Homo sapiens: one gene and its partner. The protein of the gene in region 1 interacts with the protein of each later gene in a pairwise test. Each region holds a gene or a part of one and is shown in the gene's direction. Other genes may lie near its edges.

Region 1 (3,755 bases):
TGTGTCTCTGGACGGGAGACGGTGAAGAGCTAGTTGTGCTGGGGCAAGCAGTGGGAAGGGAAAAAACAAGAAGGTGCAAGGACAGACCTTGGCCAGGATCTCAGGGTATATGGTCAATATGGGATTCTCTTCCTTCCTTTCTTTCTTTTTTTTTTTTTTAGACAGGGTCTCACTCCAGCTCCTAGGCTGGAGTGCAGTGGTGCGATCATGGCTCACTGCAACCTCAACCTTCTGGGTTCAAGAGATTCTCCTGTCTCAGGCCCCCTGAGTATCTGGGACTACAGGTGCGCACTACCATGCCTGGTTAATGTTTAAATTTTTTGTAGACATGGGGTCTCGCTATGTTGCCCAGGCTGATTTCGAGCTCCTGGGCTCCAGTGATCCACCCACCTCAGCCTCCCAAAGTGCTGGGATTACAGGCATGAGCCACTGCACCCAGCCTATATTGGGATTCTCTTTGAAAATTGATATTTATTCTCAACTGTTCTGTGGTGCATCAGCCCATCTTGCATATTCATCTAAAGCAAAGGTCACTAAGAGATGCTAAAAAATGGGCCAGGCGTGGTGGCTCACACCTGTATTCCCAGCACTCTGGGAGGCCGAGGCGGGCAGATCACTAGGTCAAGAGATTGAGACCATCCTGGCCAACATGGTGAAACTCTGTCTCTACTAAAAATACAAAACTAATTAGCTGGGTGTGGTGGCATGCGCCTGTAGTCCCAGCTACTCAGGAGGCTGAGGCAGGAGAATTGCTTGAACCCAGGAGGCGGAGGTTGCAGTGAGCCAAGATCGCACCACTGCACTCCAGCCGGGTTACAGAGCGAGACTTGATCTCAAAAAAAAAAAAAAAAAGAAGAGAAAAAAAGAGAAGCTAAAAAATGAAAATAAACCAAGTGGAGAGGCAAAAATAAATATTTGTTAAGCCCCTGCACATGATCAGGTCTCACCCACCTCCCTACACATGTCACTGAAAGGCAAACAACATTTCATTCACCCTCAGGCTTAAGGCTTAGGTCAAGTGACCCCTGAAGCTATCTCCTCATAGGGCCTTGTAAAAATGTATTATCATACAGATAAGTATGGACTATTAAATTCTAGTTGTTCAACAAATATTTGAATTCTCTCATATGTCAGACAGTGTGCTAGACACTCGGTTGATGCCTTCAACACAACTCAGAGCCTAGTGGGGAAAATAAAGAAGTAAACAGACACAGTGATGCATGTGATAATTATGATGATTGGACTATCATTAGGGCACTGTAGAGCTGACAGCAAAAAGGGGAGAACCAGATATTGGAGCTGAGACTTTAGGAGAATAAGTGGAACCTTCATTCATTCAACAAGCATATACTGAGCACTTATTATGTTCCATGCGTGGTCCTAAGCATTGGTAATACAGTGATAAATACTACTGGCAATGTTTCTGCCCTCATGAAGTTAATTTCAGTAAGAGGAGAAAATATGATGAAAATGAAACAGAGTCATATGACAGGGAGAGACACAGCTGCTGCTTTCCATTGGGTACAGGAAAGGTTTCTCTGAAGAGGTCACATCAACCAATTCATGCTTCAAGATACAACCCTTTGCAAGCAAAGCAAGAATTACTATTATGATACAAGTGTTAGCCTGCTTGTCTTCACTGACACAGAAAAAGTTACCATGTAGGTATTATCTATGAGCCAAACATTTTGCTAAGCATGGTACATGCATTATCTTATTTGTCATTTGCAATCCCTTTGCGGTAGGCGACATGATCACTATTTTGTGAGAAAATAAACTGTAGCTTCTTATTTAATAGCTTGCCTAGGGCCAAATTGCTAATATGTTATTACATTCCCTCTCTTACCAATGTCCCCAGCTTCACTGAAATATGTTTCAGGTAATCACCTTGGATCTGTGTTATAAAATGCCCAAGCAGGGGACCTGAGGGCTTGGGAGTGGACTCTGATATGCAGTGTCCCCTTCTTCTCTGCTGCATTAAAATGGGTCTCCCCTGGACACCCAGCTTTAAAATTTCTCTGTTTTGTACTCTTTCCCTTTATTTCTTAGACTGGCCGACACTTAGGGAGAATAGAAAAGAACCTACGTTGAAATATTGGGGGCTGGTTCCCCCGATACTTCAGGACTTTCACAGAGCTAAATATTTAGTGATGAAAATACTGTGAGGAAGGTTAGAAATAAAAGAAGGAGGTCACAGAGAGAGCTGACCTAGCAGCATATGGCACTAACCAGAAAGCTATGTGGTAACTGTGGACAGGAAATGTTTTCTGATCTTACAATGTAATAGAGTGTCTAGAAAACTCCAGTGTGTAAAAGGTTGTCTGTGTAGTGTGACTTTGTGAGTGTCTAAACTGTCTGCCTTTATCATCAGTAAAATTAAATGGAGTAGATATTAGGAGGTGCAAAGGATTCATCTGCAAGTGTGAAGAAAAGGAGGACTTTGCAAAGCCATAGGAAGGCTGCAGGTGAGGAAGACCTGAGCCCTAACCTACTGCATGCTCTCATTAAGAATAATAATGGCAATGTCTATCTATTGCCTTGAGAGTCATTTATGAGTCTCAGATTCTGAGACTTTTGCAAGGATTGTAGAGTACAGAAAGAAAAGAAATGATCCATTTTGTTGTGGTGGTTTATCAAGCTAATGAAAATTCATTTTAGAAAATCAAATATAGAGAAAGGTATAAAAAACAAAACAAACTATATCAGTCTCACCACTCTGAAATCACCATTTTTAATATTTTGGCATACATCTCTCCAGACTTCTCTGCGCATCTATAAACCAATATATGTACATAAATGGTTCATTATACATGATGGCTTGCAACCTGTTTTCTCCATAATTGTAGGTCTCTTTCCCCATCAAAGAAAGCAGGTCATCCCCTTATGACTGCTTAGTATTTTATTGATTTGATATATCATAATGTATACATATCATACATTAGGTTATTTTCAATTTTCATTTGCAATTTAGTCCAGTGGACTCAGTGTAATTTGGAATGATTAACATTTTTGTACTTACATCTGTGAAAGTTTGCCTTACTCCCTAGTTAGGATAAAATCCTAGATGTTTAAAAAAATCTTCATGCACACTGAAAAATTAGTACCACAAAAGGTTGCACCAAGATACACTGAGATCAGGAACAGTGATAAGGCCAGAGGTCAAAAGTCTTAAAATATTTCTTTGTTGACTTGGATTTCCCACTTGCATCATGGCATGGAAAAATGCAGAACACATTGTTGATATTATAGGGTGCAGTCGATTCCATTTCCTTCAGCTGACCTTTTGAAGGTTAGTTAAAATAAAAACTTGAACACAAACAAGTTTCCCCACAACAATGGCCACAACATGAGACCGTGCTAATCTGTGGGCTGTTCATGCGTTGAGCAAGGACTCAGAGATCCGTGCACAGCACCTCATGGAACGATCACTTTGAAAGCTAAATAGATAGAGTAAAACAATTCAAAGATATGGGAAAACTTAGAGGTCCTGTATTCCAGCCTTTTTGAACCTCAACTGAGAAATTAATGCCTAAGATTTTTAAATGTTTTTTATAAGTCCAGTGTATTTCTCATAAATGACGACAACGATTTCCATAGAATAAACAAAAAGGTAGGCTCCACTGGGTATCAGTCTCACACAGAGAGTCAAGACACCACATATTTATTGAGAACATAACTGCAAAAATAGGAAACACTTTTTCTATCTGAGGCCAAAAACCAATCATGAAAACAGCAAAAGCACATATGTATAAGGA
Region 2 (3,755 bases), on another chromosome or scaffold:
AAGAATGAATTGGGTTTGAAAGATATTTGCTAGTGGTAAATATTGTGAACAAAAATAGGAAGATAGAGACAGCATTGGCATGAGCAGAAGATATTAATATAAGAAGATGAAGAATGAGACGTAAGCTTGAAAGGACCTGTGTTTGTTTTGTTTTGTTTTGTTTTTGAAATTTTACTTTAAAGAGCAATATAATCCTATTGATTGGATCTATGGTTCTTAATCATGGTGGCACATTAGAATCATCTGTTGAGTGTTTAAACCTGCCTATTCCAATCTTCACCCCACCCCCATACACTACAATTTAGTTGGCTTAAGGTGAAACCCCAAGCTTTTTTTTTTTTTAAGCAAAGCTCTCCGGATATTTCTAATGTGCATTCAGGGCAGAGAACCCATGGACTACCCCCGACCTCTTCTCTGATCTTCTCTCTTGCCTGCCCATATATTGGCCACTTCCTCAATAATTAGCTCTTCCAGTAAAGGTACAGGGAAAAGATGAGGGAATTTTGGCAAGCATCACACCAGGCATGTGAGCTGTCATTTATACCACAGAGAACTCACAAAACAGGGTGTACAGCAGTTACAATGTTTTTCTTTAAAGCTGAAGCCATTTGCTAGTTAGGTTAATTAGGCAAAATTTGTGAATTTGTTAGTAACGTTACAGCCATATAGGCAAAATTTGTGAATTTGTTAGTAATATTACAGCCATTAATGGCTTGGGGTTAATCCAGGTTAAAAAATGTTTCCTTCCCACCAAATAGTGGGACTCCCATCTGTACTTTCTTGCCAGTATGTACATACCCATACTCTAGGGTGTGTGATAAGCCTGCCTTAAGACCTAGCTTCAGTGTGACAGTTCTACAGGTGAGCATATCCAATTTGCTAAATACAGGAAATGTTTAAAAGAATAGTTCTTTTAAAATGATGTTTAAAAACATCTCTCTTATGTCTGTAGAGTTTTAAAAACAAATTAATTTGTTTACACACCTCTATGCTTGCCTGACCAATTCTTGAATGGGCTGGGCAGATCGCAGTTATATCACTATCCCTGCAATGCATAAATAGTATGAGAACTTCTGTATTTTTAATCCTTGCCTCAAACATTTTGTATTGCGTATTTAGCAGACATTGACTGAGCACCTCCTTGGCGCTAGGCAATGGGAAAGGAAAGAAGAAAGGTTAAAATGGCTCCAGCCCTCAGTACATTCAAATGCACAGATGTCAAATGATTTAGGAAAAAGGTGGAAATGGAGAGCTCAGAGCCAACTCGGATGGTGCCCCGAAGAGGGCTGAGCTAAATCTAGGGGGTAGATTTTGTGCCAAGGGGTGAGAGGCAGGACAGAGCAGAGTGTTTGGGAAACTACAAGTATTTCCAATGTGGTTGGAAGGCAGAGGGGCAAGAAGTGACGCTGGAGAGATTTAGGGGTGGAGATGGGGCGGGAGTTGATTGGAGGGTCCTGTGTACCCTGCCAGAGTTTGGGTTTTATCCTGTAGGCACAGGGGGCAGTCACTGAGCATAGGGAATTGGCTTCAGAATTTGGTACTTTTAAGTTACCCCAAAATCCAGACTTAACTGTTGACTTCTTGTTAACAAATTATTTGTTCAACTCAAAATTGGAGTGACTATTGCATATAAGAAATGGCTACAAAATAAGTTTTTACATAGTCCTTCTCAACTATGCAGACATCTTGCAAATTTCAGCTTCTTCATTACCTGCTCGTAATGGAAGTCTAGTCGTTAAAATGATTTTTTGTGTGAATTTCTTTTAAAATTACTTTGAGTATTTGGTTTTGAAGGTTTCTAGAAAGCCTGTCCTTTTTGTCTGCTCCTGCTCTGCAGGATTGGCAAGGCAGTGTACGGCTTTCTCTGGAGCTACCAAGGCAGCAAGGATAAAAATAGGACAAACTTTAAGAATCTCAGATATTTTCAGATAACAAAGACTGATTTATGTGGGCCCGTTTTGTGCTCTGACAAAACATAGAGACGCTTTTGTGCTGTGATTAGCAAGGGTGCTGATGTCAGTTCTCTTGTCGAGCATCAAGCTTTATTCTGTGGCTAAATTGTGCTTTGTACCATAATCCAGAGAACCTTTGTATCTGCCTTATTAAAGTGTGTAGTTTATGTAATTGCTTTTGTTTTCCAGCTTAATCTGTGCCAGATTCAATGAGGGTGACTCATTTTGTGACTGAGACAAACATTCACATTTGGACCATGTTAAAAATAAATAAATAAATGGCAGGTGCTGCTTGGCTAAATTCTGTGTTTTAATGCTGTAATTTCCTGCCGTAAGGGTTCACGTCTTGTATAATGTCTACTCAGCCTCTGTAATCACTAGCCCAATATATCTAATGCACCTCAATTCATTGCTACTCATTTCTTGATTATTTATTTTAGTTCCTAAGGGCTTTTTGAATTGTAACAATGTGATTTCAACAGGGAAGCCAAGGAATGGATGGGGGGGAGCCACAGTTAGCCGGAAAACAAAGAGTGACACATAAGCTGTAGCAAAAGGACATGTTCTGTGCTTTTCTGTTTTTGCCATTTTCCCAAGATGTTTTGTGCATGTGTTTTGGTAAAGTTGTCTTAGTTATGTTTATTTTATTATGTATATGTTCAGTATTGGAGCTCTTTTTCTCAAGTGGAAGATGCTTTGAAAGCACTCTCTTCATTGTGGCCCATGTATCAAATCTAATCTCAAAAATTTTACAAGTCTACTCTCTCAGGAGAATTCTGTTTATTTATTGTACAGATATGCTATGTACTAGGCACTGTGCTATGGCAAATAAAGCAGGCGTGGTCACTATCTTCTTGAACTTTTCAGTCTGTTTGGGGAGTTACGTACTACACAAATAAATACAAAGAAAAATTGAATTGCAAAATTACACAAATCACTACGTAGGTAAGTAATAGGATCTCTAAAACTATGCTATTAGTTTACACTGGAGTTGGTTGCATTGAGGGTGGTCAGGGAAGAGAAGCCCTGAAGGTTGGAGTTGGCCAGGCAAAAAGTGAGGGAAAGAATATAATGTATTTAGGGGAAAACATGTGCAAAGTCCCTGAGGCAGGTAAGAGTTTAGCCTCCTATAAACCCTATTATTGGAGGGGGAAAAGTGACAGTTGATGGAAATTGAGAGAAAAAAGACAGGAAACTGTATTTAAAAGATGAACTATACAAGCATAGCAATATGGTACTATTTATTAATAGTATAGGGGCAAATGACACTCTATACAGTGCAACAGCCTCTGAGAGTCTCCTGAAGTGCAGTATAGAAATGGATGCTTACAATACTTAGTCTGAATCATTGGGGAATGGATTATGTTTGGTGAAGTATGTAGTAAAGCATTTTAGAAAGATTTGCGTGCAAGACAATAAAGTTTTAAAAAGTCATTTCTGTATTTAAAGATGAAGCTTCACTATCTGGAGAAATCACTTACTGAATGATATGATTTCTTGAGGGCCCTGCATAAATAACATCATATTTTATATTCTTTTGCTTTACTTCTGCATTACTTTTTAAAGCTTACTGCTTGAGAGGGAAGTATCCATAGAGGGATAATTTTACTAAGAGATGATATTTATTTATTTTGCAGTAAGTAGATGCATATTCAATGAATGGATTTTTATAGTCCAGAAAACAGTGCTAAAATCATGTGAATCCAACACTTTATGACTTTTCAATATTATCTAAAACATCTATAGGACTCTACCCTGCCTTCCCTGGACACAAATTATATACTTATTCCTTTGAGCTGCGTG

The links. Proteins that work in one complex are often made in the same cells at the same time.
Region 2: the proteins of SH2D1B (region 1) and GAB1 interact in binary tests that used the Homo sapiens proteins (3 or more experiments, as listed by UniProt).

Annotation. Positions count from the first base shown.
Region 1 is NC_000001.11:162,405,512-162,409,266, reverse strand, and holds part of SH2D1B (SH2 domain-containing protein 1B), read left to right. Parts: intron 1-3,755. UniProt on the Homo sapiens protein: Cytoplasmic adapter regulating receptors of the signaling lymphocytic activation molecule (SLAM) family such as CD84, SLAMF1, LY9 and CD244. In SLAM signaling seems to cooperate with SH2D1A/SAP.
Region 2 is NC_000004.12:143,409,721-143,413,475, forward strand, and holds part of GAB1 (GRB2-associated-binding protein 1), read left to right. Parts: intron 1-3,755. UniProt on the Homo sapiens protein: Adapter protein that plays a role in intracellular signaling cascades triggered by activated receptor-type kinases. Plays a role in FGFR1 signaling. Probably involved in signaling by the epidermal growth factor receptor (EGFR) and the insulin receptor (INSR).